4 linked regions of the Homo sapiens genome follow. The protein of the gene in region 4 purifies or fractionates together with the protein of the main gene of each other region. This does not show direct contact. Each region holds a gene or a part of one and is shown on either strand. Other genes may lie near its edges. The genes, in order: TARS3, AKAP11, BORA and DNA2.

What was found.
Region 1: the proteins of DNA2 (region 4) and TARS3 purify together in Homo sapiens (affinity purification with mass spectrometry; 2 studies listed by BioGRID and IntAct, with this or other methods). This does not show direct contact.
Region 2: the proteins of DNA2 (region 4) and AKAP11 purify together in Homo sapiens (affinity purification with mass spectrometry; 2 studies listed by BioGRID and IntAct, with this or other methods). This does not show direct contact.
Region 3: the proteins of DNA2 (region 4) and BORA purify together in Homo sapiens (affinity purification with mass spectrometry; 2 studies listed by BioGRID and IntAct, with this or other methods). This does not show direct contact.

What each region holds. Positions count from the first base shown.
Region 1 is NC_000015.10:101,699,503-101,708,346, forward strand, and holds part of TARS3 (threonine--tRNA ligase 2, cytoplasmic), read right to left. Parts: intron 6,246-8,844; coding exon 6,181-6,245; intron 4,436-6,180; coding exon 4,357-4,435; intron 2,884-4,356; coding exon 2,737-2,883; intron 1,683-2,736; coding exon 1,584-1,682; intron 1-1,583. UniProt on the Homo sapiens protein: Catalyzes the attachment of threonine to tRNA(Thr) in a two-step reaction: threonine is first activated by ATP to form Thr-AMP and then transferred to the acceptor end of tRNA(Thr).
Region 2 is NC_000013.11:42,266,963-42,275,954, reverse strand, and holds the start of AKAP11 (A-kinase anchor protein 11), read right to left. Parts: upstream 3,804-8,992; 5' UTR 3,727-3,803; exon of another isoform or gene 3,194-3,726; intron 1-3,193. UniProt on the Homo sapiens protein: Binds to type II regulatory subunits of protein kinase A and anchors/targets them.
Region 3 is NC_000013.11:72,750,854-72,757,471, reverse strand, and holds the end of BORA (protein aurora borealis), read right to left. Parts: intron 5,304-6,618; exon of another isoform or gene 3,783-5,303; coding exon 3,651-3,782; exon of another isoform or gene 2,322-3,650; coding exon 2,256-2,321; 3' UTR 1,276-2,255; downstream 1-1,275. UniProt on the Homo sapiens protein: Required for the activation of AURKA at the onset of mitosis.
Region 4 is NC_000010.11:68,426,974-68,433,973, forward strand, and holds part of DNA2 (DNA replication ATP-dependent helicase/nuclease DNA2), read right to left. Parts: intron 5,538-7,000; coding exon 5,421-5,537; intron 5,343-5,420; coding exon 5,233-5,342; intron 4,999-5,232; coding exon 4,889-4,998; exon of another isoform or gene 4,884-4,888; intron 3,688-4,883; coding exon 3,463-3,687; intron 1-3,462. UniProt on the Homo sapiens protein: Key enzyme involved in DNA replication and DNA repair in nucleus and mitochondrion.

The sequences.
Region 1 (8,844 bases), on a different chromosome or scaffold from region 4:
CTCCCAACTTGAGAGTACAAGGTGCCAGGGGCCATGCTGATTTTCCAGAGAAGACAGCACATCCAAATCAGCAGCTGTGATGGTCATCACCACCTGCCTAAATGTAAATCTCTGATAATCTTCAGTGATTCTTCAAGTCTCTTCCACTGCCCTCTGATCTCCTACCATTGCCTCGCATTGGCCAGTCCCTACTGGAAGATGTGTACCCCAGGTGATAGAATACAGACATGTCAGCCTCCAGGGGCACAGCACAAGAAGAAAAAGACGGAGAACAAGACTGGAGAAGCAAACAGAGAATAACCAGTGCAGGCCACATGCCATGGATTGTCTTCTCAGAAAGTTACTGAAGAAAGTGATCCCCAAATGAGAATTAAAGATAAGCAACGAAGAGATATACAGGGACCAGGAAAAGAGACTCAGCATAGGAAGAGACATGAGGGGAGTGGCCAAGATGATGATGAAAAGAAGTCCTAAGCCATCAGTTTGCAAGAATCTTAGTAGCAAGTTAATTCTGGAGTAGGACCAAATTTGAAAAAAAAAATTACTGAGCAATTACCTGAATCATTGCAGAATATGTTGCAAGGAGATTTGTAGTTTTTGAGAGAAATTGGAGCATGAATTAGTGGTAGGCACATAAAAAAACTAAGTAAATGAAAAATTTAGGTAATGATTATAGGAAAGACAAAACAGTGCAAGCATGGAAATGTAATCCCAGTAGTCCACCCGGATCACCTGTGAACACTATCTACACAGTCCTTATCATGTAAATACTAAAGACTTTCCCACCTATGAACTTGTAATACAAGTAGGTATTTTGCACTGTTGGTTTTTTCCTCTTTCCTCTGGAACTGCCAAATCACCTGGGAGTCATGCTATAGGCAAAGGGAAGCATCAGTGGCCCATGGAGCACATTTGGAGAAGCAATGCTTCATGGCTTAACACTCTGTACCAGAGACGACACTTTCTCCTTTCTTCTTTTTCACAGGGAGTGCCACACTTAGTCTAATGCTTACCTTTATATTCTACATGGTTTAGAAACTTATATGGACAAAAAGTGAATTTTATGAAATCCAGGAATGTATTCAGGGGAAACAGAAATTATCTCCATGTTATTATTAGAAGGTACAATCTAGTACCTCACTTTTTTTTTTTTTTTCTTTGAGATGGAGTCTTGCTCTGTCACCAGGCTGGAGCGCAGTGGCACAATCCTGGCTCACTGCAAACTCTGCCTCCCGGGTTCAAGCAATTCTCCTGCCAGCCTCCCAAGTAGCTGGGATTACAGGTGTGCACCACCACACTCGGCTAATTTTTGTATTTTTAGTAGAGACAGGGTTTCACCATGTTGGCCAGGCTGGTCTCGAACTCCTGACCTCAGGTGATCTGCCCACCTTGGCCTCCCAAAGTGCTGGGATTATAGGTGTGAGCCACCGTGTCTGGCCAGTATCTCACTTTTAACCTCAAAATTCTTATTAATGTTACCAAAGTAAAGTTAATGGAAACGCTTGACCACTTTATTATGAGAGAAAATAGTAAAAATGTAAACTGGAATTGAATAAGAATAAAACATTTTAAAGTTAACTTACTCGTATGAAATCTGTAAGCGTATTATAAATGAAGGCTCCTCTGGGAAGGAAAAAACAGCTTCCAGGACTCAAATCGTGGAAAAAGAAAAGTTCTTGTTCCTAGATTGAAACAAAAATTGCATTTCAAATGTCATCTGCTATTGCTTAATATTTACTGCACACACATATAATACTCAGTTATTTCCATCTTCTCTAGTAATAGACATTCCAAGGCCATTCAACACTTATACCTAAATGCATGCAACAGCATATGTAAAATTTCCAATCATATTTATGCCTAATTAGCTTTGAACTTAGCTTTTACTTCACCTTCTGCTATTCTCTGCGAATTTTCTTACTTGGCACACTTGGAGTACGGCACTCATGGGGAGACAACACGGTAGAAAGACCAAAAAAGTTCATTGCAGGAGGTGGGCTTTAGGTGATGATGATCATCATGGCTGCTGCCTACTGAGAGCCTATCCTGTACCAGGCACCGTCACCCAGTTTCTGTCTTCACAGCCACCCTGCAAGGCTACCCAGCAAGGAAGACAAGGACACGGAGCTTGCCCATCATCTAACACAACTAGTGAGTACAAGGACTGGGCATAAAGCTCAGGCCGAGCTGCTTTCCAGTCTGAGCTTTTCCTTCTACACGCTGCTCTGTCTCCCAGATACAAAGGATGCTATAAAGTGCACAGAATGTAAAAAACAACTCTTTTTTTTTTTGAGACTGAGTCTCACTCTGTCGCCCAGGCTGGAGTGCAGTGGAGCGATCTCAGCTCACTGCAACCTCCGCCTGCCGGGCCCAAGTGATTCTCCTGCCTCAGCTTCCAGAGTAGCTGGGACTACAAGCGCGTGCTGCCACGCCTGGCTAATTTTTTTGTATTTCTAGTAGAGGTGGGGTTTCACCAAAAACAACTTTATTTTTTATCATGACAAAAATAAGAGAAGGGTACAATTTTCAAAAATTAATAAAAGATACAGGAAGGAAAGAGGTTAGAAGACATCTGGGGTATTAAAATGAAAGCACTGAGCAGCGGACTGTGAGTGCCAGCAAAATAGGAGAGAAGAAGAAGAAATCTTATTTTTAAAGCAACTTAGTTTTGTGAGACAGAAACATTCCTATGTTGGCTTATGATTACATCTCCAGTGATTAAGATGTGGGGCATACCTTCCCGATCTTCCTGTGATCTCGGTTCTTTGCTTCCTCTTGGAACTTTTCCCAGTCTCTCATCATCTTGTTATCAGGAAAGGATATTCCATAGATCCTCTGCAATGTTTCCATTTCCGGATTGCCCTCCCAATATGTTGAGGAATTCTAAATATCAAAGAGGATTTTGGTAAATATATCATACATTCAGTTGTAAGTAAAACTGCTCTTAAATACAAATGCAATTTTCCACTATCATATCAACAAAGCAGCCCTGCATGGTGGCTCATGCCTATAATCCCAGCACTTTGGGAGGCCAAGGTGGTTAGATCATTTGAGCTCAGGAGTTTGAGACTCGCCTGGACAACGTGGCAAAACCCCATCTGTACAGAAAATACAAAAACTAGCCAGGCACGATGGCACATGCCTGTAATCCCAGCTACTTGGGAGACTGGGGCAGGAGGACTGTTTGAGCCCAGGAGGTCGAGGCTGCAGTGAGCAGTGTTTGTGCCACTGCACTCCAACCTGGGTGACAATGCAAGACCTTGTCTCAAAATCAAACAAACAAACAAACAAAATCAACAAAGCTTAAAGAAGACTATTTGTAGTGCTGGGAACAATCTTAAAATGGATTCTAACTAAACCTTCCCAGCCTAAATTATACCATTAACCAGCAAATTATGTAGAGTCTGCTATGGATTCTAGGAATGACAGTGAGAGCACACAGAAAGGAGGGAAGGCTAAGCAGCAATCATAATCACCAAGGATGGGGCAGAACAGACAGTAGGTATGGGGAAGTAAAGGTCGGTCTTGCTGACCTACAGTCAATGATTAAGAACAGTGCCATTAGCCAGCCCCATTTTACCTGTAAGAAAATCAAAGCCAAGAAAGGCTGGGACTGCCAAGTCAGTCCCATGCCTCCTAATCCCAGAGCGATGTTTTCTCCATTACAACATCATATCCCCTCCTGCTGTTTTCTTTATGCCGCAATACATTACTTTCACATGCAGACAAATATTCTTGCTTACATCAGGGCTATTCAAGAAAACCATAGTATATAGAACAATATTTTAAAATAGTGTATGAAAAAGGCCAGGCGCAGTGGCTCATGCCTATAATCCCAGCACTTCGGGAGGCTGAGGCAGGCGGATCACCTGAGGTTAGGAGTTCGAGACCAGCCTGACCAATGTGGTAAAACCCCATCTCGACTAAAAATAGAAAAATTAGCCGGGTGGGGTGGTGCAGGCCTGTAATCACAGCTCCTCAGGAGGCTGGGGCAGGAGAATCGCTTGAACCCAGGAGGCGGAGATTGCAGTGAGCCAAGATCACACCACTGCACTCCAGCCTGGACAACAGAGCAAGACTCTGTCTCAGAAAAATAAAAAATAAAATAAAATATCGTATGAAAAAGAAATGTTATAACACTTACAATAAGGTAAAATGATAAACAAAAGCCACCTATAGTGTTCTAATTATCAAAATTCTAAATGATTTTATTAGTTTTCATCAAATAAGAATGAAATATTTTAAAATATCATGATGTTCAGACTACAAAAGATATGATTGAATAAGATATGATTAAAATCCTTTAATAGCTAGTGCACCTTAAGTTTACTGTATTAAAAAAAAATCAATCCTTACCTTAAAAATTTTGATGGTTTTAATTTTTCCAGTGTGTCTTACATGTGGACCTTTGCAAAGGTCAATTAATGGACCGCACCTATAATGAAATATTTAGGACATGCTCAGGCACAGTTACAGTGTTCTGGACTATTCATTATAAGCCATAATATCCTATGTTTTAGGTAGAGCTTCACTTATTTATATGTAGCAATGCCATTTTTAATTTAGGGTGAAGGAGAGAGGTGATTCATCTAGCCTCAGAGTCCACTCTGCCCTCTAGATTCAAAAACCACAGAACATCTTCTGAAAGAAACTAGGCAATTCTCTGATTAAAAACTTAAAAATTACAATGAATACAAAAAGGGACTGGCTTACAGAGTGGCAAACACGAAAATGTCATCTCTCTCAATGGTCAGTCTTTGTGTATTGTTCTCTAGGGAGAGAGCTTGTAAACAACACTCAGATGAAGGGAAGGAATGCCAAATTAGCATGAAAGGCTTCAATACTCTAATCTTTACATAGAAAGTCACAGGGCCGGGTGTGGTGGCTCACACCTGTAATCCCAGCACTTTGGGAGGCCGAGGCGGGTGGATCACGAGGTCAGGCATTCGAGACCAGCCTCGCCAACATAGTGAAACCCTGTCTCTAATAAAAAATATAAAAAATTAGCTGGGCGTGGTGGTGGGCGCCTGTAATCCCAGCTACTTGGGAGGCTGAGGCAGGAGAATCACTTGAACCTGGGAGGCAGAGGTTGCGGTGAACCGAGGTCGCGCCATCGCACTCCAGCCCGGGCAACAGTGCAAGACTCCATCTCAAAAAATTAAAAAAAAAAAAAAAAAGAAAGCCATAAAAGAAAAGCTTTATTTTTTTTTCAAAAATTAAATACAAGCCATTCAAATTGAAAAACTACAAAAAGTGTCAATGTTGACGTAAGTAAGGTTCTCAAACCCAAGAGCTCAAGCATTAGAAGCCAGAAATTTAAAACTTGGCCTGTTTTCTACATTTTCATTTATTTTTAAGCTTTAAGAAATGCACCGTGCATAGCTTTGCACAAAGGGGATATGATTTTACTTACAGTACAATTAAACCAGAGAACCATAAGTCCTTGACTGTCGAAAGTAAGTACCATGAGGGAGAATATCTGTGGTTATAATTAAATAAATACCAGGTCTTCTAAGGCGGTACTGTGATAGTCCTAGCAGCACCCAGATGGCCGGAACACACGGAAAGGGGAACAGCAATGACATATAAGGCGTATACACACGAATAAAGAAAAAGGTGCTCAGGAACCTGAGGTTAAATGAACAGAGCTAAGTGATTCTGGTATTAACTTCACTTGTCTCCTCTTACATTTGATCCTGCCTTTGTTTCCCAGTATTTTCTTTTGGTCTCATCATGAGTATCCTGCTAATGCATGAAGACTGTACACTTGGACTCTGGACAATGGGGCAGACTCTTCTACACTTGCACTCTGGACAGTAAGTATGAGGCAGAGAATCACTGCCGAGGAGATGGCTTGTAATGGCCCCCACTGCCACATTAATAAGAACGTGGAAGGACAGAATAGAAACTCCTTTCCCAACAGTATCACTCACATGGAGAAAAATCCTGTTATAGCTAACACCCAGGAAACAAAATATGGGTCTCAGTACTGTCCTGATTACTAAAAAGGGGAAAATAATCATTTCTCTTTAGTGAAAACATTTTGAAGATTGTAACTACGGTAGATTATCAACTACACAACTTGAAAAATCGATCTCCAACCAGAAAACAAACTCGGCCTCTACTGCTAACACCTTCAAGTTTACCACTGAGCAGCGTTTACCATGTGTGGACACAAACCTGTACACGGTGGTAGTTGCAGTGTTAACTTTCTCATTCAGAATGCGGCATTTAAATTTATTGTACTACGAAGAAAAACATATTTACACATTATTACACACAATGTTGAAATGAAGAAAACAACTCTACTTTTCTTCAAGAAACATTGAAAGGTCATCTACTGATGTTCTAGGTGCTGAGACACGAGGGATACAAAGAGCTCACAGCCTTGAGCGACACCGTGCAGCATGGAGGCCACAAGCCACGTGGCTACTGGGCATTTCAAATGCCATTAATTTGTGGTTGTTGTTGTTGTTTTTGAGACAGAGTCTCACTCCCTCACCCAGGCTAGGGTGCAGTGCCACCATCTTGGCTCACTGCAACGTCCGTCTCCCTGGTTCAAGCGATTCTGCCTCAGCCTCCCGTGTAGCTGGAATTACAGGCATGTACCACCATGCCTGTATTGTATTTTTGTATTTTTACTATGTGCTAATTTTTGTATTTTTAGTAGAGACAGGGTTTCACTATGTTGGCCAGGCTGGTCTCAAACTCCTGACCTCTAGTGATCCGCCTGCCTTGGCCTCCCAAAGTACTGGGATTACAGGTGTGAGCCACCACACCTGGCCTCAAATGCCACTAATTTGAAAGAAGATGTGCAGTGAGTATAAAACACACTGGACTTTGGAAGTATAATGTTGCAAAAAGAAGAAGAAAATCATTCGTTAATCATTCTTTATACTGGCTACCATTGAAATTATACTTTTTATATATTGGGTTAAAAATTTGTTAAAATTAATTGCAACTTTTACTTTTAAAATGTAGCTGCCATAAAATTATAGGTTACACATGTAGCTCAGACTAGTGGATTCCATTATGTTTCTATTGGACAGTACTGTTCTAGAAGATCTAATTTTAACATTAATCAATAAAATTCTGACAAGGACACAGCTATATTATTAATTTGTATAAAAACAAAAGCAAAGTTTATCGTAATGATGATATATTTATAAAACTAAGGGTTTTTTTCCTTTTCCTTTCTTTTCTGCTTCCATCACTACTATCGGGGTATACAAGGCACTTTATATTAAATAACTACTTAAAGAAGCTAGTTGTTGGGAGAAAAACCCGTATCTGCATGATTTAACTGTTTCGTATCTATATATTCACAACAAATCATTTTCCTTAACAAAGATTAATTGTGTTTAGTTCTTAAAAGTAGCTGCAAAAAAGGCAACCCACAGAATTAAATATTTGCAAATCACATATCTGTTAAGAAATGGATATCCAGAATATATCAAGAACTCTTATAACTCAAATACAAAAAAACCTAATTAAAAAATGGGCAAAAGAGCTCAACAGACATTTCTCCAAAGACATTTCTTCAAGAAAATACACAAATGGCCAATAAGCACATTAAGATGCTCACCATTAGTACGTCATCAGAGAAATGCAAGTCAAAACAAAACCCCAATGAGATACCACTTCACAACCATTAGGATGTCCATGATTAAAAAAAAAACAAAACAAGTGTTGGCAAGGATGTGGAAAAACTGAACCCCCTGTGCATCACTGGTGGGACTGTAAAATGGTGTAGCCACTGCACCAAACGGTATGGCGAGTTCTCGAAAACTTAAAAACAGAATTGCCATAGGATCCAGAAATTCCCCTTCTAAGTATATTCCCAAAAGAAGTAAAGCAGAGACTCAAACAGAACTTTACACACCCATGTTCACAGCAGCGCTGTTCACAATAGTAGCCAAAAGGCAGAAGCAACCCAAGTGTTTACAGGTGGATGAATGGATCAACAAAATGTGGTCTATCCGTACAATGGAATATTATCCAACCTTATAAAGGAAGGACATTCTGACACACATTAAAATATTAAAATATGGATGAATCTTGAGGACTTTTTGCTGAGTGAAACAAGCCAGTCACAAAAGGATAAATATTGTCATGATTCCACTGATATGAAGTGCCTGGAGGAACCAAATTCAGAGACGGAGAGTAGAATGGTGGTGGCCAGGGGCTGGGGGCAGGGCGGGAATGGGGAGCTAATGTTTAATGGGTATAGAGTTTCTGACTGGCAAGATAAAAAGCTTTGGAGATTGGTGATGGTTTGACAACATTGTCAATGTACTTAATGCCACAGAACTGTATACTTAGGATTAAATGGTAAATTTTATATGTTATATATTTTACTGCACAAAAAAGAATACTGCAATTTTTTACCAAAACCAACTCTATTTTTTTATTCAAGCCCACAAAACTGATAATACTGTGTTTTCAAAGTACATGTTTTTGGTTGGGCGTGGTGGCTCACGCCTGTAATCCCAGCACTTTAGGAGGCTGAGGGGGGTAGATCACTTGAGGTCAGGAATTCAAGACCAGCCTGGCCAACATGGCAAAACTTTGTCTCTACTAAAAGGATAGAAAAATTAGTCAGGCACGGTGGCACATGCCTGTAGTCCCAGCTGAGGGACTGAGACACGAGAATTGCTTGAATCCAGGAGGCGGAGGTTGCAGTGAGCCAAGATAGTAGTGAGCCAAGATAGTGCCACTGCACTCTAGCCTGGGAGGCAAAGAGAGACTCTGTCTGAAAAAAAAAAAAAAAAAAAAAAAAAAAACCCAAAAAATAAAAAACAAAATGTATGTTTTCTCCAATATGTATGTTTTAAAACATAAAAT
Region 2 (8,992 bases), on a different chromosome or scaffold from region 4:
GCACTGGACTTCTAGACTTCTTGAGGGCAGAAATTCCTTCCTCTCTGAACACGACCAGAAGCCTGTATCACAGTACCTGCCACACGGTATGCTCTCAACAAATACTAATACCGTACCCTTGCATTGTGCCTGCCATATGCCAGACACTGTTTAATTGCTTTACATACATGAATTCATAATTCTCACCACAGAAGGTGCTATTATGCCCATTCTACGCATAGGAAAACTGAGTCATCAAGCATTTCAGTAATTTGCCTGAACTCCCACACCCAGGAGAATCTGTCCTGTAAAGAGACTACTGGTTAGATCTGGTTAGAACATTACCAAGCTGAGAGCAAGTTCAATGCAATGCCAGAGGAAGAACTCAAATTGCAGGATGTTAAAGCACACCTGAGGTATCCATCACTTCCTCCCTGTCCACTCTCCTTTTGTTAAATATGTTGGCATGGCCAGTTTAAAAGGAGCAGCCCTGCAAACTGTGAGACAAATCTAAGTCTCTTCCTCATCCATTTTTCCCATTCCTATCTTTCCTCACTCTCCAGCCAACTGTGCTAGAAGCAGAAACCTGACCAATTGGATTCTCTCTCTAGAAACATAACTGAGACTTGGAGATGTTTGCTGAGAACCATGTTGCATAGTCAGTGAGTCTGATGTTGGCATCATGGCAAACCAAAGTCTCATGCAAATCAAAGTTTTGGGGAAGTGGAAACCAAGAGCTTTAAAGAGAAGGCCAATCTGAAAGAAACTGGAACAGACCTGCGTGAGTAGCAGAGACATAAGACCATGTGCTTCCAGAGAAAAACTGGAAGAGTAACTGCCTGAAGACTTTCTGGTTCCCAAAACGCTGAATTGGAATCATGCAATGGACTTCAGCAGCACTGTATGACAAATGCTTTTTTTTTAAGTAGGCTAATTAAATTGGCTTTTTCTTCCTTGCAATCAAAGAATCCTCAAACCATTACGGGAGGTAAAAATAAAAACACTGAGTAAGCAGCTACTATGTGCTTCGCACTAACTTTTTGAGGTGGGTATGAAGAAAATGAGGCTCATTTAATTAATAGACCTGACTCCCAAACCGAAACTCTTTACAATATACCTCATTTTCAGTCAAGTAACATCCTCTCTGTTCCAGGCCTCTACCCCATTTATTTCCCAAGAAACATTCTCAGATTATTCTAAAAATGATAACTTTTCTCCTTTTACCATGTCCAGTCTCTAATCTACAAATTTCAAATGCCTTTACTCCAGAAGTTTTTTGTTGTTGTTTTTTGAGGCAGAGTCTCACTCAGTCGCCCAGGGTGGAGTGCAGTGGCACGATCTCGGCTCACTGCAATCTCCCATCTCTCAGGCTCAAGCGATTCTTGTGCCTCAGCCTCTCGACTAGATGGGATTACAGGCATGTGCCATAACACGTGGCTAATTTTTTATTTTTTAGTAAAGACAGGGTTTTTCCATGTTGGCCAGGCTGGTCTTGAACTCCTGGTCTCAAGTGATCCACCCGCCTCAGCCTCCTAAAGTCCTGGGATTACAAGTGTAAGGCACCAAGCCTGGCCCAGAAGTATTTTTTTAATAAACTTTTATATGTAAGGATGACTGGGAGAATCGAGACACTTGGATCTTTCCAGGCTGTTTTTAAACTGATAAAGCATTTTTCTTTCTCTTCCCCATATTACCAGCTCATTGACCCTTAACTCATGCCCAGGCTTAACTTAAAGCTTTTCTCGACCTGTCCTCACCCTTCAATCCTTCCAGGTAGTTGATTAATAAAATGCAGACCACAAGACAGGAAAAAAAACAAAATCAGTTACCCTATCCAAAGTTACTTCAATTACTTTTGAAAAACCAAACACCACACGCCCTACAAGTTTGAAACCCTTGCCAAAAGGTTATGAAGACCAGCCAAAAAATTTATTTTTCTACTTCTGAAAATTAGTTTGCTAAGATGGAGTAAGAAGGAATTTTTTCTAATCAACACTGGTCTCCTCTGCCCATTCACAAAGAGATATTTTCTAAGTCTTTCACATTTTTGTCACGTATAGACAGAATTCCTCTACCTATTTACAACTGGCATTTTCTCTTAAAACGGCCTTTAATATATTGTCCAAATTGGTTTGAGTTCCTTTTCCAGACAGTAAGTTCCTAAAATTAAAAAATAAAAAAATTAAAAGTACCGTATTTTTTCCAGCCTCTAAAGGCAAAAGAGGACTTCTTCAGCTTCTAGACTTATCCCTGGAGTTCAGGGGGCTAGAGAAGGCTAGAGAATTTCTCACTATGGTTCCATGTCTTAGGCAACTTCCCATATCCTCAACAACTGCAAAATATCACTGGCCTAGGAGTCCACTGCTAGGCCCTTATCAATATTGTCGATACTGCAGTTATGTGGGTACATACATTAGTCTCTAGCTCAGCTTGGGAACCCACTTCTTCCCTGATTTCCTTACATTCTTTGACCTTTCATAAATTACTGTTACAGCTACAATAGTGACATTCACTGTCCACCCCTGGGTCAGTTTTGTCAGGAGGAACAACGACAAGAAAAAATGAATAATCAGGGTACCGTTTGAAAAAGTAAATGTGTTTTTCAAAAAAAAAAAAAATCATTCAATTGCACTATTTTAACTGACACCAATCATGCCAGGCACTGGGCTGCCATCCTAAAATGATGACATTAAAAAAAATATATCTGTGCATTACTGATACCCCATTTTTTCTTAGTACTCCATATTTTGAGTATTTTCAGACATAACAAAATAACAATCGACATGACATTTCTAAAACAGTGGGAAGCAGCTAAGCAAAACGAGCATTTTGCAAGCGATTGAAAAGCTGAAAAGAGAACAGGAATTAACTCCAGTTTGTACTAAAGCTATTAGGTATGTATCTCAGCAGTCTTTCTCACCATGAAACTCCTTAACATCTAAAGCTAAACCACATCCAACTTTATATGGTTTTAGAAGACAGACAAAGCAGAGAAAAAAAATGAAAGCTGGTAATATGGGGAAGAGAAAAAATGTTAGCTTTTACTGTCATTGTCACTTTTTAATACTTCGGTTACATCTACATATTTTTTATAAAGCAGCTTAGATGCCTGGATTAACAGCAGTATACTCAATCCATTCGGGGTACTTTATGGCCAGCCTTAAGCCATTAACAGCCTAGGAGAGTATTTGACAGCAAATCCAAATATCAATACTCTGAGGAGCCCCTTGACGCCTTCCGTTTACAAGATCTGAGCAGCGCCTGCTTCCAAGGCTCCGGGGGTCTGACAGTGAAGGATGCTGTTCGGGAACAAAGTGCAACGTCCTCCCAACCGCTGCAAATGTTCCTGTGCGCACACCACGAACACACACTAAGCACGCGCACCACGCACCCGGGGGGCCGTCTCTGAAGACCACCCCGGGGATGGAAACAGCCTGTCATTAAAAGGGGCGGCAGCTCCACCGCCACACTTGGGACCCCAGGAAGACGCGTCTCGAGACCCAGCACCTCCCTCTACTCTGGGCCCGGTGCGGTGAGTTTCCTCCTTCGGCCGCGCTCCTCCCGCCCTCCTCCCTCCGCCATGCGAAGGCGCAGCTCTCGGGCGGCCCCGAAGCCAGAAGGGGGACCAGCGGCAGGCGGAGGGGCTGGAGCGCCGGAGCCGGGCCGCTCCATCCATGCCGGCCGCACACCCGCCGCCACCCCATCTAAACGCAGCCTCCGCGGCGAGCACGTCGGCGCCCGGCTCACCTGGGGGCCGCAGCCTCCGCAGCTCACAGACATGTCACCGGCCTCAACGACCCGTGAGCGAGCCGGGCAAGCAAGCTGGCCCCCTCCCGCGCTGACCCCCAGCCCTCCCCCTCCCAGCCCCGCGGCCCGCCCCCGCCCTGCCCACCCCTCGGCTTCCGCCGCCGCCGCCGCCGCCGCAGCTCCGGCCCGCAACACCGCCTACTCTCCACGCCTCCCACTCTCTCTCGCGAGAGGGCAGCGCGCCTCTCGCGAGAAAAATTCCGCGGCCGAGCCCGCGCAAAAGTGGGTGGGCGTTTAAAAAGGGAAAGAAGGAACAGGAAAAAAAGCCTTCCCACGTGCTCCAGTGCAGCCCGCGGAGCAGCCCGCGGGGCAGCCCCGCTGGTCACATGACTTAAAGGGGGCCTCTCCATTGGCCGGGACCCACTCAGCCTTGGGAGCTTTAAATTCGAGGGCGACCTACGAACCTGCGGCGGACGTCTTGCGCGCTTCCTGGTCCGTTGCCTTGGAAACGGCTTAACCCTTCCCTCTGGCAAGTCCCCAGGCCTTGGCTTGCTCCGCAGATTTGGTTTCAGGCTCTGCCTCTTTTCCCTCGACCCCTTAGTCTTAACAGCCTGGGGCCAGCTGGGCTCCTTCTTCGCCACAAGGCTAGTTTTGCTTTCTTCCGAAGCCCGGGGCCCTTCCCAAAGTGGCAGCCCCACCAGATCCGAAGGCCCAAGGAAGGCTCATCCTTTCTGATGGCTCCGCCCCTTCTCCCAGCATCTCCGGGGAGGACCACTCACAGCGCACCGGGCAACCAGCCCTATCCCAGCCAAGAAGTAGCTTCCAGGGTTCTCAGGGCCCTAGTGCTCACCCTGATGTCTTTACGTGGTATGGAAATCGGAAAGTAAAGCTTTGGTCACTGGGAAGCCTAGCCAGAGATGAAAAGCTGTTATGGTGATTATTTTCACCTAAAATCGGAAGGGCCAGTCCAGTCAAATTGCCCTGTCTCCTAAAGGGCATCTGTTCCTCAAGAGTGGAAACACCTGGCAATAAGAAAGACATTTTTGAGTGTATCCTCGTTATGAGTTAAGTTTTGCCCTGTTCAGAGGAGAGGGTCACGGAAGAAAGGGTGCATTCGTTTGTTCATTTCTTCATTCAACAAACACTACTCTAGGCTGTTGATTGAACAATGATGAAGACAAGTAGTGTAGATTCTAGGGAACTTATCTGAGGGTGAAAAGAAAAAAAATCTGTTGGTTTTAAGCTGTATGCAAAGAAGTTACAATAAGTGACGTGATGGTGATGGTGACTGAGTGGCTAGTAAAGGGGATGCCCTTTTAAGGAGGAGATATTTTAGCAGCGATTTGAATAACAGACGCAAAAATCAGAGCATAGAGCATTCCAGGAAAAGGATAACACTAATTCAAAGGCCCTAAGTAAGGATCTATTCTAGTGCATTTGAGGGAAGAAGAAATGAGAAAGTAAACTTTCTTGAGCCTGGAGATGGAAACTGTAAGAGTTAAAGAAAGAAACACAAAAAGCAGCTTAACAGAGACAGGTTTATTTTGGAGAATAAACCTGAGAGGGGCTTCTGGCCGATTTCGGTCAGGAGTGTTCTCTCTTACAGACTAAAGGTATTTAGTGGTTTAGGGAGGGAGAGCATATTGTAGACTTGGAATGTTTCTGGGTGGAGGAGAGTTTTATTGTCAGGGGTGTAATGTCTCTGGTTGGAGGGGAGGCATATTTCTGATCAGAGTGGGGTTTATCTCAGGGTTGGAAAGTTTCTGGTCAGAAGTGTTATTTGTGGTTTATGGTCATGCTGACATTAGCCATTAGGCTGATGTTTCTGGGGCTGGATTTAGGCGGTTTTTAATCAAGGGGAACTTAAAATGGCGGTGCTTGTCCAAGATGGTGATGCTCTTGCTCTGTCAGAAACTAGCATGGGCCAGATCCTGTAAGGCTTTGTTAGCCAAGAAAGGAATTGAAAGTTTATTCTAAACGCAATATAAGGTATTACAGAGTTTTTAATAGGGGAGAGACACCCAGAGTTTACTTTTTTTTAAAAAAAAAAAGTCTCGTCTTTGAAAAGAATGGGTCTTAAAGAGGCCAAAGCAGAAGTAAGGGAGATTAGGAGATTTATAGGCCAGGTGAGAGACAGTCATGAAATTTAATTTAATTTCCTATGATCTCAACATTTCTAAAATCCATTAGGTCAGAGTCCTCATGCTGTTTCTGCCTTTGTTGAAACATGTGGATTTCTCCTAATTACTAGGAAAAATAAAATGGAGGATTTTCTTTTGTTACCTGGGGGAAAACAAATGGCTGAAAAGGAAGGGCCCATCTTTAATTTTTTTCCCTCCATTATGCTACACTGACAACCACCTCTTCTGTCTATTCTTAAAGTCAATTCTGGGAACAGAAAATGAAATTCTACGCAGATACTTATTCTTTAGTGTAAGATTTGAAAAGATAGAGGTTGAAAGCTCAGAAATCAAGAGGATGTTTCACCAAAAGAAACGAATCAGGAGATGAGTTCCAACTCGAAGCTCTGTCATTAGTGATACAACCAAATCAAGGTTCCTTATCACCACTGAGTCTCAGCTTCCTCATACATAAAACAAAGCAATGTAACTAGCCTACACCTAAAGTAGTTAAGCCTGAATTACACTTTAACATGCACATACCAGTAGGACGGAAGCTGGAAAGGGAAATGAAATGATTTTTTATGAAAACCTAACAGAGTCAGCGGCTCAACCCAAATGAAATTAGACACACACACACCAGCTGAATAACTCTGAAAACGGTTGATACAGATACCAGGAATGCTTCCCTAAGAAACCTTGGCCTTCTCAGAGTGTGAAAACGGAAACACCGCCACCTGCTCAACCTCGAATTCCATCTCTCTTAAGCTATTTTGAACCTGTGTAGTATTAAATAATGATTCATGTGTTCCTAATCAGAGTTTAAGAACTAGATAGCAAATACATTTTTTAAAAGGTCTGAGGCAATATCCTAAAGTTAAGCTAACACCTTAATTTTAACGAAAGCAAGATTTCAAGATACATAGGGCTACTTTTTAAAAGGAAAAACGCCAAAAAGAGAAAAAGTACTATTTTAACAAAGTAGGACCATTCTTTTAAAATGTTAATTGAGTATTTTTTGAGTGTTTACAGCCCTCATAATGATTAACTGAAACAGCTGCTTGGTACTACTAATTTAGATGAACTCTGGGCCCAACTCTCCCAATCGAACATGTATTAACAGAGCCCGAAATAAATCCTCCCAACTCACCTTAGCAAGACAGTCATTGTGCTCTCTTGTGCTAGCTACAATTATTTGCAGTACATTAATACAAAGTGAGAAAAAATTAGGATTGAGATCCAGTTCTGCTGTGTCCCCAGTTCCTGGATTCTTTTTAAAACTGTGTTTTTTAACAGTTTTACTGAGATGTAATCCATTTACCATACAATTCAGTGCTTCTGGTAGATTTACAGTTGTGCAACTGTCATCAAAATCTAATTTTAGAAGTTTTGTTCCTCCCTAAAAGAAACTCACATACTCAGTAGCAGCCAATCAACTTTATGTCTATAAAGACTTGCCTATTCTGAAGGTGGAAACCATCATTCTAAGCAAACTATCACAAGGACAGAAAACCAAACACCGCATGTTCTCACTCATAGATGGGAGTTGAACAATGAGAACACATGGACACAGGACACAAGGCGGGGAACATCGCACACCGGGGCCTGTAGGGGGTTGGGGGGCTGGGGGAGGGATAGCATTAGGAGAAATACCTAATGTAAATGACAAGTTGATGGGTGCAGCAAACCAACATGGCACATGTATACCTCTGTAACATGTTGTGCACATGTACCTTAGAACTTAAAGTATAATAAAAATAAAATAAAAAATAAAAAAGACTTGCCTATTCTGGACAGTTCATATAAATGGAGTCATACAATACATGGTCTCTTGGGTCTCACTTCGTTCATTTAGCATGTGTTAAAGGATCATCCATGTTGAAGCGTGTATCAGTACTTCATTTATTTTTTATTGCCGAATAACAGTTCCATTCTATGTATATAGCACAGTTTTATTGGCCAACTTATCAGTTGACAGACAATTCAGTTGTTTCTACTTTTTGGCTATTATGAATAATACTGCTTTGAATATTCCTATACAAATTTTGTGTGGATGTTGCTGATTCTTTTTAATACTCTAAAAAATAGAAGACGTTCTATTTATCCCATTTACAGAGTTCATATTTCTCCTCCTAGCACCGTTCCTTTGCTTCCAGGATTTGTCTTTTTTGCCTGCTGGTTGAAGTATGTGCACTCTATCTCCAGAGGGCTGCCATTTCTACTGCATCTGACCATGCCATTCCCCTGCTTACAATCCTTCAGTGGCTTCTCATGGTTTTCCTCATAATCTGCTTTTCTCCTTTGCTTTCATATCATTCTCCCTTTCAGACTGTCCCCTTTTCAGTTCCTCAAAATAGGACCAGACCCTGCCTGCCTCATCACCTTCCACAGGCTGTTTCTTCAGGATCCAATATTCTTTCTCTGTCCATCCCTGTTAACAGCTGAATGCCCAAGAATCCTTCACCTTTCAACTCTACTGTCACTTCCTCAGGAACTTTCGTCCTAACTCCCCAGACTAAGTAAATCCCCTTTACTTAGGACTCCCTACTTTTTCTTCAACGCATTTATCAACTTATAACAATTTTTATTTGTGTGGTTACCTAGTTAATGTCTGTCTCCCTCCTCCACTGAACTGTGAGATCCATGAGCAAGGGCTGTTTCTGTTTTTGCTTAGGAGTTCCTAAGGCACATAGTAGGTACTCAATAACTATTCAAAAAAAGAGAAGCGGGGAAGGAGGGTGTCTTACCAGACTATTCTTTATTCTCTTTAATTTGTATTGTCAGGAGTCCTCAGTAAAGTCCTGATAAATGCTATAAGCCAAATCTGTGCTATGTTAAGGGAAATGAATGTCAAGGCATGTCCCATGCTTGGGATGTTGCAGCAGGGAGAAAACAGGTGTCCCCTGCTCATACTCCTCACAGAAACGGGGTAGGGAGAGGAGAGACCAGTGGTGTACAAAGGAGCCAGGGCAGCAGGGTGGCAAGTCAGGGAACACAGCCTGTGTCCAAGGGCACCCAAGAGGGTGCCTGGGAACCCCTGTGTGTCTCCTAGGGACATTTTAGTGGGCCAATTTCCAGCAATCAAATTGGTGGTGTCTCCTCCACTGTAATTTTCTAAGTTAATGGAAATATTTCTTTCATTTTTA
Region 3 (6,618 bases), on a different chromosome or scaffold from region 4:
CCTGGATGATGAGAGTGAGACTCCATCGCAAAAAAAAAAAAAAAAAAAGAAAAGAAAATTAGCCAGGTGTGGTGGCAAGTGCCTTTAATCCCACCTCAGGAGGCTGAGGCAGGAGAATCGCTTGAACCTGGGAGGCAGAGGTTGCAGTGAGCCAAGATCGCGCCACTGCACTCCAGCCTGGGTGACAGAACAAGACTGTCTCAAAAAAAAAAAAAGAGAAGAAAAACTGCCTACAGGCCATAGTTAACCTGCAATAGAGAAGAAAGGGAAGTAGGGCAGTGCATGACTGGCCTTAGGTTTTTTCTTTCCAAGTTTATTTTCTTGTGCTTCAGCTACTAGAAAGGTTTAATTCAGGGATAAGTCCCAATTGAGTAGTTCAAGATGATCAGAGACTTTGCTATTTTCCCCTAAGTTCTATTCCATAATCTAAAATGTTCTGTTTCTAGTGCCAGTTCTTATGCTAAGCAGGTTACGTGGAATATATCACTTAACTCAAAAAGCCCTGTTAAGCCAGGACTGTTATCTCCATTTAACAGATGAGAAAATGGAGGTTTATGGTCTGTTCTCACACTGCTACGAAGAAATACCCCAAACTGGGTAATTATTATAAAGGAAAGAGGTTTAATGGACTCAGTTCCGCATTGCTGGTGAGGCCTCAGGACACTTACACAATCATGGCAGAAAAAGGAGAAGCAGGCACCTTTTTCACAGGGCGGCAGGATGAAAATGACTGCCAGCAGTGGAAATGCCAGACGCTTATAAAACCTTCAGATCTCATGAGACCGGCTCACTATCACAGGAACAGCATGGAGGAAACCGCCCCCATGATCCAGTTACCTCCACCTGGTCCCACCCTTGACACGTGGGGATTGCTACAATTCAAGGTTAGATTTGGGTGAGGACACAGAGCCATACCATATCAGCCCAGATCAAGTAGTGACAGAGTAGGGATTTGAATACAGGTTATAGTCACTATTGTGTTATTTCTTGACTTTTGTACTATTAAAAAACTGTAGCCAGTGAGGCTTCTACCCTTAGTACCCAGAACTCCTTTTAGGTATAGCAATTGTTTTTAGGTAAATTTATATTGAGTTTAACACCTGTGTGATTAAAGACAACTTTCCAATGTAGTATCTGTAGCCATGTCCCCTAATGGCTATTAGTGTTCATGGTTAGTGTGTTGAAGATGAGCCAGGTACATAACGCGGCACATTTTCTGCAGGTCAGCAGTAAGGTTTCAAGGTACAGTTATGGAGGAAAGAAGAAAATGACACATTGATAACACAGGTCTTTATTCCCTTTTGAATGAGACAGTTTTTAAAAGTTGATTTATAAATACAAAAATACATTCTCCAAAGATAGTATTTCCAAACTGTTATATACCCATCTACTCCCAACATGGATATAAGTTTTTTAAAAAAATAGTTGTATATAACATACATATCTGCCCCAGTGTTACTTCACAGGCCTATGCCCTACGGGAACTCCACTCTCCCAGCCCCACTTTTTCTCTTGGTTCTCCCACATTCTTATTCTCCCACATCCCTACCCACGTTTGAGCTGGAAAGGATGTCCCTACCCTAGGCATGAGGTATATTTTATTCTGGGCACCACACATTTGCCCCATAGATAACAATACACGTGATGATGTCACTAGTACTACCTTTCTAGTATTTACATACTTAAAAGTAGTAACTAGAACAGTTATCACTGGAACTAAGAATTTTCCCCACAGAGGTGAACAGACCAAGAACTAAAATTTCAGGAAACCTGTTTAATTTCTTTTGTATCTTTGAAAAGTTAGTTTTATATCTAAGATTTCTTCACATAGGTTATAATTCATCTGTATGTTCAAGCTTTTATGTAAAAATATATAGTGCCTTCAGTTTTAACATAGTTTCACATGTTCTCAGAACTGCTAAATTCAGTGCTACCAGTAAGGCTTAATAAGTAGTTCATTGACCCTGTAAGATAGGAGCACTCAGCTCTGTCACAATTTGTTGTTAAACACATCACTCAATGTAAGTATAAAAATATTTATTGATAAAAAATAAACTTATAATTCAGCAACTTGAAGTTCCAGGAGCATTTCTGTTGTTCCTATGTCAGTAAGCCCTTGATTTTTCACATTAAGGAGGGAAAGCTAAGCATGTTACTTGAAGTAATTTTTTCCCAGTCACCATCATGTTGATCCTGTGCACAACGATATATGCGAGGAACTCTTAAGCTTAGTCTTTGATTCTGACAGAGGCATTCTATGGACTGCTGCATTGAAAAGGGCTTGCTGTTTTCATCCAACACCTCTGTGTTGTGTGGTCTTGCTGTGAAAAAGAAGACAATACCTTGTTTTCAGTTTAAGTAGGACCACTGGAGGATGCAATTATCGGGACTGTTTTTAAAACCTAAAAGCACGTTTCTTTAGCTGAACTCTGAAGGGACAGTAAAGATACAGTATTTTATAAATCAATATTCTGCATCAAAAAGCATCCCAACACTTTGAGAGGCCAAGGTGGGAGGATCGCACGAGCCCAGGAGTTTGGGACTAGCCCTGGCAACATAGTGAGACCCTGTCTCTACCAAAAATTTTAAAAAGCTGGGTGTGGTGGCACATGCCTGTAGCCCTAGCTACTCAGGAGGCTGAGGTGGTAAGACTGCTTGAGTCTGGGAGGTGAAGGCTACAGTGAGCTGTGGTCGTGCCACTACACTCTAGCCTGGGTGACAGAATGAGACCTTGTCTCAAAAAAAATAAAATAATAAAATTTAAAAAAATCCTTCATTTATCTCTACTTATGTTTAGATAGACAACTGCATCCTGAAATAGGATGGATTTTGTTCAGGTTAATATTAGAAGAGACCTGCTCTGATACTACATACAACAGAAAGGCAGTTTGCTCCTACTACATACAACAGAAAGGAAAACTAAGGTGGCCTCCCTATTAAACATTTGTTGCACATTTGCTGATATTTATAGTATTTTATAAGAAACTGGCATATAACAGCAGGGCAAGGTGGTTCACACCTGTAGTTCTAGCTACTCAGGAGGGTGAGGCAGGAGGATTGCTTGAGCCCAGCAGTTAAAGGCTGTAGTGATCTGATTCTACGACTGCACTCCAGCCCGGGTGACAGAGTAAGACCCTGTCTCAAAAAAAAAAAAAAAGAAAAAAAAGAAACGGCATACAAGGCTGGGCATGTTGGCTCATGCCTGTAATCGCGCAGCACTTTGCGAGGCTGAGGCAGAAAGACTGCTTGACACCAGGAGTTTGAGACCAGCCTGGGCAACACAGCAGGCCCTGTCTCTACAAAAAAATAAAATGCAAAAAAAATTGGCACATAAAATTAAAGACTGTCCTGACTAGTGCCTGAAATTATGATGAGTTTCTTCAAGTATGAATATATAACCACCACCTGGAAGGTTCAGTAAATGCCCTCATCAAATACACGCTACCTTTGCACACTTTGTAGTATGTAAGATACTTGTGTATTCAGAGTAACCAAAATATTTAAAGGTTATTGGATGTTAAGAAAACAGGCTTACCTTTTAGTGTTTTAAATTTCATATAGTTTCTCAATAGTACTATTGTCTAATAATCAAAATTATTTTATATTTCTAATCTAAACAATATTAAGCTTTCACTATATTTTCTCCGTACCTTCATATTAAATGCTTGAGATTTACTCTCAACTTCACATGTTTGTGCATCACTTTCTTTGCAGTAACTTTCTGCCCCAACTGTATCCATAATATTGCTTCCACAATTCTGCGTATTATAGCCACTATCCATCTGACAGGAGAAAAAAGAAAAAAATATATTGTGAGGAACTTAAAAGTCAAATATTTAAATAAGTAAACCACTATAAACTCTCATTCACTACATCTGAATGATCCTAACATGTAATATTGATCATGTTGAACAAAATTCAAAAGTAATGCACAAATATAAAAGGTAGTCCTGCATAGTACTGATTATTGTAGTCATTTTACAATTCCTTCCAATGAAATATATCTTGTAACTTCCTTAAGAATCAGTGAACAGCCTACTGACACAATGCTTTCCTGTTATTTTGTGATCGTACCTAGTAGACAAAAATGAGTATTACAACTAACTTCACCTTCCAACGCATTTTCCAGGCTTGTCTCTAAATGGCTTGAGGCATGCTGCCTTTAAAAAAGTGGATTATATTATATTTACACCTAGTTGTTCACAATAATGCCACATATATAATGGCTCTAGATGTTAGTTCAGCTTTTCATGTTAATAAAAATTGTAGCATCCTAAGATACACTGTTTCAGTGCAAAAGAGCAAAAAAGAAAGATTCTAGCGAACTTCCAGCTTGGAAACATTTATTGAGTGTCTAAAAAGGCCAGGCACTATCTCTATATATTTAATATTTTTTTCTCCTTTCAACAACCCTAATACTTTACTAGAGAAGGAAATTAAGGCTTAAAAAGCTTAACTTTCACAATGTCATCCAGTGATGAGGTGATGAAGATGTGAGACCTAAGTCCAGGTTCTGTTCACTGCACAACGCTCCATTTACCTGTATAATGCTGAGCACCAAAGAAAGCAATCCACAAGGGAATCATTTTGCATTTAAGCCCTCCCTGCAAGTTAGGATCAGAGGGAAGGAAAAAGCTGACTGTCATTTTGTTTCCCTCACAAAGGTACAGACTAGCCTAGAAACGGCACTCTTTATCACTTAATAATCCTGAAAAAATGTTCCCAGATTTCAAGGCTGGATACATATCTGCTTACTACTAGAGGTCATGTTCCAATTAGAACAAAAGCCTTGTGATGTGTAACATTTTTGGGGAAAAGCCTTGTTCTGCTATCATTCAATAGCTACTTGATCAAAAATATAAATGTCAGATTGCTCCCAGAGATTCTGCCAATAGCTCTTCCTTCTAATATTCATCACTGCCAAATAGCTGGCTTATAATGCAATACTAATATGTAACTGGATATATATGGAGGGAAGAGTTACTCATTAGTACAGCAGGAAGTAAGGCATGCGGGGAGTTTGTCCCACACTATGGGAAGAGCAGGATTGATGAGAGCCAAGTTGAGATGGTGGCTGACTTCACTGTCTCTCATCTAGACTTCTGCTAATGTCAATGCCTAATATGTACCAACCAGGCAACAGATACCTTGTTATCCCCCACAGGCATCAAGGCAGGCATCAATCTCACTTTATAGCTAAGAAGGATGAGGGGACAAAAATTAAAAAGTCATGTTCTATTCACTGCTATGTAAATCTTGCCTTAAGATCCCACAGCCTGGAAATAAAAGAACTCTAATTCAAACTTGGTTCTAATTGCAAACTTTATATTCCAGTTGGGTCATGGTGCCTTTAAATGGTGTCTCTATGTCAGTCATTTAACATGCACTTTGTTACTAAATTTATTTTTCTACCACATAAATCAGATGTCATTGTCTTTTAAAACTTTCAATTGGCAACAGTTGTGCCCTGTGATAACATTCCTTGACATCTGGGCCCAGCACTTTAGCCCTTCCCTCATCATTCTCAGTCCCCCTTGTTTGTTACCATTCAAAGGACCTTGCCTTCCATTACTACTTATGTTTTTGCTTTTATTATTATTTTAAACTGACACACAATTACACATATTTATGATGTACATGATATTTTGATATGTTTACAATATGTAATGATCAAATTGGGGTAATTAGCATATCCATTAACTCAAACATTTATCATTGCGTTGGGAACTTTCAAAATCTGCTCTTCAAGCTATTTGAAAATATACGATAAATTGTTAATTACACTCACCGTATAGAGCTATAGAACACTAGAATTACTCCTATCGAGCTGTACTTTTGTATCCATTAACCAACCTCTCCCTATCCCTGCTCCCCCTACCCTTCCCATCCTCTACTACCTACCACTATTCTATACTCTTCTATGAAATCAACCTTTTTAGCTTCCACATGAGGGAGTACATGTGGTATTTATCTTTCTGTGCCTGGCTTATTTCACTTAATGTCCTCCAGTTCATCCATGTTGCTGCAAATGTAAGGACTTCATTATTTTTTATGGCTGAATAGTATTCCATTGTGTATATATACCACATTTTCTTTATCCATTCATCTATTAGTGGACACTTAGGGTGATTCCATATTCTGGCTATTATGAATAGTGCAGCAATAAACACTGGAGTACAGGTATCTCTTTGACATACTGATTTCCTTTCCTTTGGATATATACCTACTAGTGGGATTGCTGGATCACATGGTAGTTCTATTTTTAGTTTTTTGAGGAACTTCCATAATAGCTGTACTAATTCATATTCCCACCAACAGTGTTCAGGCACTGTTTACTTATATTAATCACAATGATCATGCTAATATCCTGTAATCCTATTATTATCCCCATTTAAAGAAGAGGAAACAAGCTGAAAGAAACTGTCACTTTCTGGGATTTATAAAGCTAACAGAGCTGGGCTATAAACTGAAATCTGCCATTACGGTTTCCCAAGCCCATGTTCTTTAATGCCATGCTCGCGCCTCAACTAAATACATTTGCACCCACACCCATCCTGGCACCCTGCCCTCCTTTAAACATGGAGGAGTTACTGCGGCTACTCCTATCAGGGTTCTAGA
Region 4 (7,000 bases):
TATACATTTTAAAAATTCTCAAAACTCAACACTACAAAGCATATAATCCAAAATGGGCAAAAACATGAAGAAGAGATACAGATGACAAATAAGCACATGAAAAACTCATTATGGGCCAGGTGTGGTGGCTCAAGCCTGTAATCCCAGCACTTTGGGAGGCTGAGGCAGGTGGATCACCTGAGGTCAAGAGTTCGAGACTAGCCTGGACAACATGGTGAAACCCCGTCTCTACTAAAAAAAAAAAATATGTGGCGCATGCCTGTAATCCCAGCTACTTGGGAGGCTGAGGCAGGAGAATCACTTGAACCTGGGAGGCAGAGGTTGCAGTAAGCCGAGTTCACACCACTGCACTCCAGCCTGGGCAATAACGTGTCAAAAACAAAAAAAAAACCCCACCACATTATGGCTGGATGCAGTGGCTCACATCTGTAATCCCAACACTTTGGGAGGCAGACAGAGGTGGGAGGATCATTTGAACCCAAGAGTTCAAGACCAGCCTGGACAACATAAAAAAATTGAAAATATTAGGCAGGCATGGTGGTACATGCCTGTATAGTTCTAGTTACTCAGGAGGCTGAGGCAGAAAGATCACTTGAGCCCAGAAGGTCAGGGCTGCAGTGAGGCGTGGTCTCACCAGTGCACTCCAGCCTGGGCAACAGAGCAAGACCTTGTCTCAAACACACACACACACACACACACACACACACATTTTAACTGGGTAAATGCAAATTAAAATCTCCAAACACCTACCAAAATGGCTAAAATTAAAAATAGTATCAGCTGGGCACGGTGGCTCATGCCTCTAATCCCAGCACTTTGGGAGGCCAAGGCGGGTGGATCACGAGGTCGGGAGCTCAAGACCAGCCTGGCCAACATGGTGAAACCTCGTCACTACTAAAAATATAAAAAATTAGCCAGGCGTGGTGGCGCATGCCTGTAATCCTAGCTACTCAGGAGGCTGAGGCAGGAGAATTGCTTGAACCTGGGAGGCAAAGGTTGCAGTGAGCTCAGATCGCACCACTGCACTCCAGCCTGGGCGCCAGAGCCAAACTCCATCTCAGAAAAAAAAAAAAGCCCGGCACAGTGGCTCACGCCTGTAATCCCAACACTTTAGGAGGCCGAGACAGGCAGATCACAAGGTCAGGAGATTGAGACCATCCTGGCTAACATGATGAAACCCCATCTCTAGTAAAAATACAAAGAATTAGCTGGGCGTGGTGGCAGGCGCCTGTAGTCCCAGCTACTCGGGAGGCTGAGGCAGGAGAATGGCATGAGCTGGAAGGCGGAGCTTGCAGTGAGCCAAGATTGCACCACTGCACTCCAGCCTGGGGGACAAAGCGAGACTCCGTCTCAAAATAAAAAAAAATTGTATCGCCACCAAATGCTGAGGAGATCACTCATACACGTGAAATGTTCCTGCTTAGAAAAACAGTTTGGCAGATTAAAAAAAAAAAATGAACATGCAACTACCAATCAATCCAGAAATTGTACTACTGGGAATTTATCCCAGGGAAATGAAGACTTATGTTACGCAAAAACCTGTAACATGATTGTTTACAGCAGCTTTATTCACAATATCCAAAAACTGGAAACAATCCAGATTTTCAGAGGGTGAATGGTTAAACACAATGCAGTACATCCATGCTATGGAAAAATACTTGGCAACAAAAAGGAACAAACTATTAATACGTACAACTATCTGGGGGAAGCTCTGGAGAATCAGGCTAAGTAAAAAACACCAATCCCAAAAGGCTATTGCATTTACTTAACATTCTCGAACGACCAAATTATCGAAATGGAGATCAGAGTCTCAGAGTCATGGCTGTCAGAGGTTAAGGAGGGGTAAGGCAGGAGAGTGGATACAACTATAAAAGTGCAACATGAGGAATCTTGTGGTAATAGAATAGGGACTGTATCAATGTCAACATCCTGGGTGTGACATTGTACTACAGACTTGCAAGATGTCACCACTGGATAAAGGGGACACAGGCTCTCTCTAGTATTTCTTACAACTGCATGTGACTCTACAATTACCTCAAAGTAAAATGTTTAATTTAATAAAAATGTTAACCAGATATACATCTTAGCCAGTTCTAAATTTATCAATAACAGGGACAGATATTAGACAAAAATATGCTAGCATTAGACAAAGGAGGTAAAGGAACACTCTATTAAATCTAATCTTTGGGAAATTTTTTAAAGACAAAAATATCAGTTAAGCCAGGCACTATAGCCGCGCCCATAATCCCAGCTACTTGGTGGAAGGTTCAATTAAAAAAAAAAAAAAAAAGCCGGGCGCAGTAGTTCACGCCTATAATCCTGGCACTTTGGGAGGCCGAGGCAGGAGGATAACCTGAGGTTGGGAGTGCGAGACCAGCCTGACCAACACGGAGAAACCCTGTCTCTACTAAAAATACGAAATTAGCAGGACGTGGTCAGGCATGCCTGTAATCCCAGCTACTTAGGAGGCTGAAGCAGGAGAATCGCTTGAATCCGGGAGGCAGAGGCTGCTGTGAGCTGAGATGGCGCCATTGCACTCCAGCCTGGGCAACAAGAATAAAACTCCGTCTCAAAAAAAAAAAAAAAAAATTAGTCAGGCGTGGTGGCGGGTGCCTGTAGTCCCAGCTACTCGGAAGGCTGAGGCAGGAAAATGGTGTGAACCCAGGAGGCGAAGCTTGCAGTGAGCCAGGATCGCGCCACTGCACTCCAGCCTGGGTGACAGAGCAAGACTCCATCTCAAAAAAAAAAAAAAAAAAAAGAAAAAAAAATCTGTTAAGAACTCCCAGTATAAATAAACATTAAATAACAAAATAAAATAAAAATTAGATTCTATATAAAAGCCTAGAGATAGTTATCACAAGACTATTAAGTACCATTGTTTCTAATTCAAACTTACTAAAAAACCCGGATTTTTTTTTTTTTTTTTTGAGCTGGAGTCTTGCATTGTCACCTAGGCTGGAGTGCAGTGGCGCGATCTCTGCTCACTGCAACCTCCGCCTCCCAGGTTCAAACGATTCTCCGTGCCTCAGCCTCCCAAGTAGCTGGAATTACAGGCGCCCACCACCACGCCCGGCTAATTTTTTTTGTATTTTTAGTAGAGACAGGTTTTCACCATGTTGGCCAGGCTGGTCTTGAACTCTTGACCTCATGATCCACCCACCTCAGCCTCCCAAAGTGCTGGGATTACAAGCGTAAGCCATCGCACCTGGCTGAAACCCTGATTATTAGTAGTTTCCTAGGATATTTGAAACTAGAAGAGAGCCCTAAATAATAAACCCAAAACCTTATTTCAGATCAGAAGGAAATAGCAAACTATAAGTTAATAAACTGGTCGTATAGTACATATAAATTAATCATGTGCAAATCCAGTCAATGTGACTAAATTTCCCAGAGTACAGTTTCTCCCCTCATTCTGGCTGTGGACATTAACTGTTAGTATTATTATACAATAATTGTGCTTACTTGACTATTGTAGAGTTCTTCTAGAAGAGCTAAGGATTTAATGGACTTTGATCTGCAAATTTCTTGCTCTGTAAATTGCTGGATAGCTGGATGAACCTTCTGAATCTGACCCAAACGCAAAAATCCTATTTTAAACTTGGCTAACTTCAAAAGAATATTGTCAACAGCAGAGTGTGTATAGCTGGTCAACAAAACGCTAAAACCACAGGCGTAGAGAATTCTTACCTAATAATGGGTAAGAGAAAAAAGAAAAAACAGCCTTACTTTTAATTCCAGATAATTTTTAACATGTTTATAAACTTAACAAGAACCATATCTAAGAGCTGAGCCAAGTAAAAATTATGAAGCCAAAACATTTTACAAAAATTACATGACATTATTATACGTTATTAATAATATGTCAATAATACATCATAGGCCAGGCATGGTGGCTCACACTTGTAATCCCAGCACTTTGGGAGGCTGAGGCAAGTGGATCACTTGAACCCAGAAATTCAAGACTTGCCTGGGCAACAAAGTGAGATGCCATCTCTTTTTAAAAAATTCTTTTTTTAATTAGCCAAATGAGGTGGTGCGCCCCTGTGGTCCCAGCTACTTGGGAGGCTTAGGAACGAGGACTGTTTCAGCCCAGGAGATTGAGACTGCATGAACTGTGATCATGCCACTGCATTCCAACCTGGTCTCAAATACCAATCCCCCTGACTTGGACTCCCAAAGTGCTAGGATTACAGGCATGATCCACCTCGCCTGGCTCACGTTAACAAGACTCCATCTCAAAAAAAAAAAAGAAAAAGAAAAGAAAAAAAGAAATTTACTGACATGAAAAAAAAAATCCAAGAAAAATCTCTAACATCTTTTTTTTTTAGGATGGAGTTTTGCTCTTGTTGTCCAGATTGGAATGCAATGGCGTGATCTCAGCTCACTACAACCTCTGCCTCCTGGGTTCAAGTGATTCTCCTGCCTCAGCCTCCCGAGTAAAGCTAGGATTATAGGCGCATGCCACTACGCCCGGCTAATTTTTGTATTTTTAGTAGAGAGGGGGTTTCACCATGTTGGCCAGGCTGGTCTTGAACTCCTGACCTCAAGTGATCCGCCCGCCTTGGCCTCCTAAAGTGCTGGGATTACAGGCGTAAGCCACAACGCCCGGCCTCTAACATCATCTTTAAAGGGAAAGGAAAACATATAGTGATAAATATCACATACCACTAACGGAAAGCGATCTTAGAAAATTCTAAATGCGAGAAATCTACATGATTACAACTGTTTGTGCTTCAGCTTTACTATTTCTCATCATTCTAAAAAGTTCATTTGAAACAAAGACACTGAATTAAAATTCAGCCCTTTTGATATTCAATATTACATCCTCTGAACTGAGGAGAAGCTGATACAAATATTTTGTCTCTAAGCAGAAGAATAATAACCTTACGAGAGTACATATCGTAGTTGTTTTTCCTGTCCCAGGCATACCCACGATGAGTGTGTAGTCTTTTGAAAGAAGTACCTTTTTCATCGCTTGCCTCTGAGGCTTATTCAAACCTACATTTAAATTCAAAAATAACAGGAAAAAGAGTGTTGAATTTCAAAGGAAAAGTTAATTATTTCATAAGAAAAGCAGTCTCTATCCAAGTCTATTCTTCAATACAAAACCATTTCCAAAGAGTCTTGGTCTAAACATTGTAGTTGCAAGTCTAATCAAGATATTAGACTACAGTATAAATCAAATAGAAACAAGAAAAATTAATCAAAGCAGACATGGTGATTTTAGCATACCCTTTAGAATGCAGGCAACTGTATCCTTTGCATCATGTGGAAGAACAGAACTAAGGTAGGATATAAACTGAGGTTCACGAAAGTCAATAATTAAATCTCGAAGTTTTTTGCTGAAAAGTGAAAAAGCACTTTTAGTAATATTCCTTAGAAAAGTGGAGTGAAATTCAAATTTGCTCATTGTTACAAACCTGACAAACGTGTTTTCCATCAATTTGGAAAGATTTCCTAATGGGGTATCTATATCACAATTTTTTTCTTCTTGGTCTAATCTGAACAAAGTTGATTCTGGAAGGACCGACAAGTTTCTAAAACAACAAAACAAATATACATGAATGCTCGCCATTTCGCATAGTCTGTATAAGAAATATGCTGCTATCTGCTAAAAGAATGAATGGGCCAGAATAGCTATTAAAATAGCTACCAGCCCTCAGTCACACTTGCCAATCAAGGACAGCATGAGGCCCTGGATTGGTGGGAAAAGGCAGAGGGAAGGGGAAGGTCCAAGGCACCAAGGTCAAAGCAATTAATAATTGGGAACCTGCAACATTTGCTGAAAATTCATTTACCCTTGCAGTCGAACACGGGTTCACCATCCCCAGAGGGATCCTGAATGCATGGCTCTTCCTTCCTCTAACCTGGAGTGCAGGCTTCTTTTCTGCCACCTTCTCCCTGTCTTCTATCTGTCCCTTAAGCTCTGGTATTCCCTAGAGTCCCTTCCCTGGTTCATTGTACTACTCTTTCTCATTGTTTGCTCCAGGGTCCCAGGCCCTCACGTGCCTCCAAATTCCAAATTCCATCTTTAGGCCTGACCTCACACTCCTCTCCTACCTGGTTCCTCACCCAAGCTTTGGGTTTGGATATTTAGTAGGCAGTGAGATCTCTCCACTTAGCTAAACCCAGGCTGTGAAAGCACAGTACTTTCAAAGCAGAACTCCTCCTCATCCCTGCTGAACCTGATGCTCCTTCTCTGGTCCTGATCACAGTTAATGGCATTGGCATTTGCATTTGCACTGCCATCTTGATCCTTCCCTCTCCCTCATCCTCTCCCCAACCCACACACCCAATCAGTATCCAAATGCCAGCCACTTTTACTTTCTAAATACTTCTCAAAGTCATTCCATTCTCTCTGCCAACACTACCCTGCCTCAATTTCCTCTAGCCTGGGTCACTGCAACAGCTTCCAGGTTTGCTTTTAGTTTTTCTTCCATTAATGAACTCAATTCTCTACAATGTAGCCAGAGGAAAATGCAAATCCAATGATTACCCACTCTTCTGTTTAAAACCTTTCAATACAATTCTATTTATTCAATAGAATAAATAAAATCTAAACTTTTTTTCTTTTGAGAGAGGGCCTTGTTCTGTTGCCTAGGCTAGAGTGCAGTGGCATGATCATGGCTCACTGTAGCCTTGAACTCCTGAGCTCAAGCTGTTATCTCACCGCAGCCCCCTGAGTAGGTGGGACTACACGTGTACACCACCACACCTGGCTAATTTTTTAATTTTTTGGAGAGATGGGGGTCTCACTATGTGGCCCAGGATGGAAAACTTTTTAAAATGATACGTAAGACATTCTATGACCTGATCTAATTACTCTCTTCCTTATATTTTATATTCTAGAAATAACGTAATTACCTGCATTATCCTGAATGCTCCATGTCACACTACATCACACGTTTGTGCAACAGGTTTGCCCAGTATAGTATTCTCTTCTCACACTGTTTCACCAGACTAATTTATTAATCCACAGGATGAAGATTCAGAATTAGCT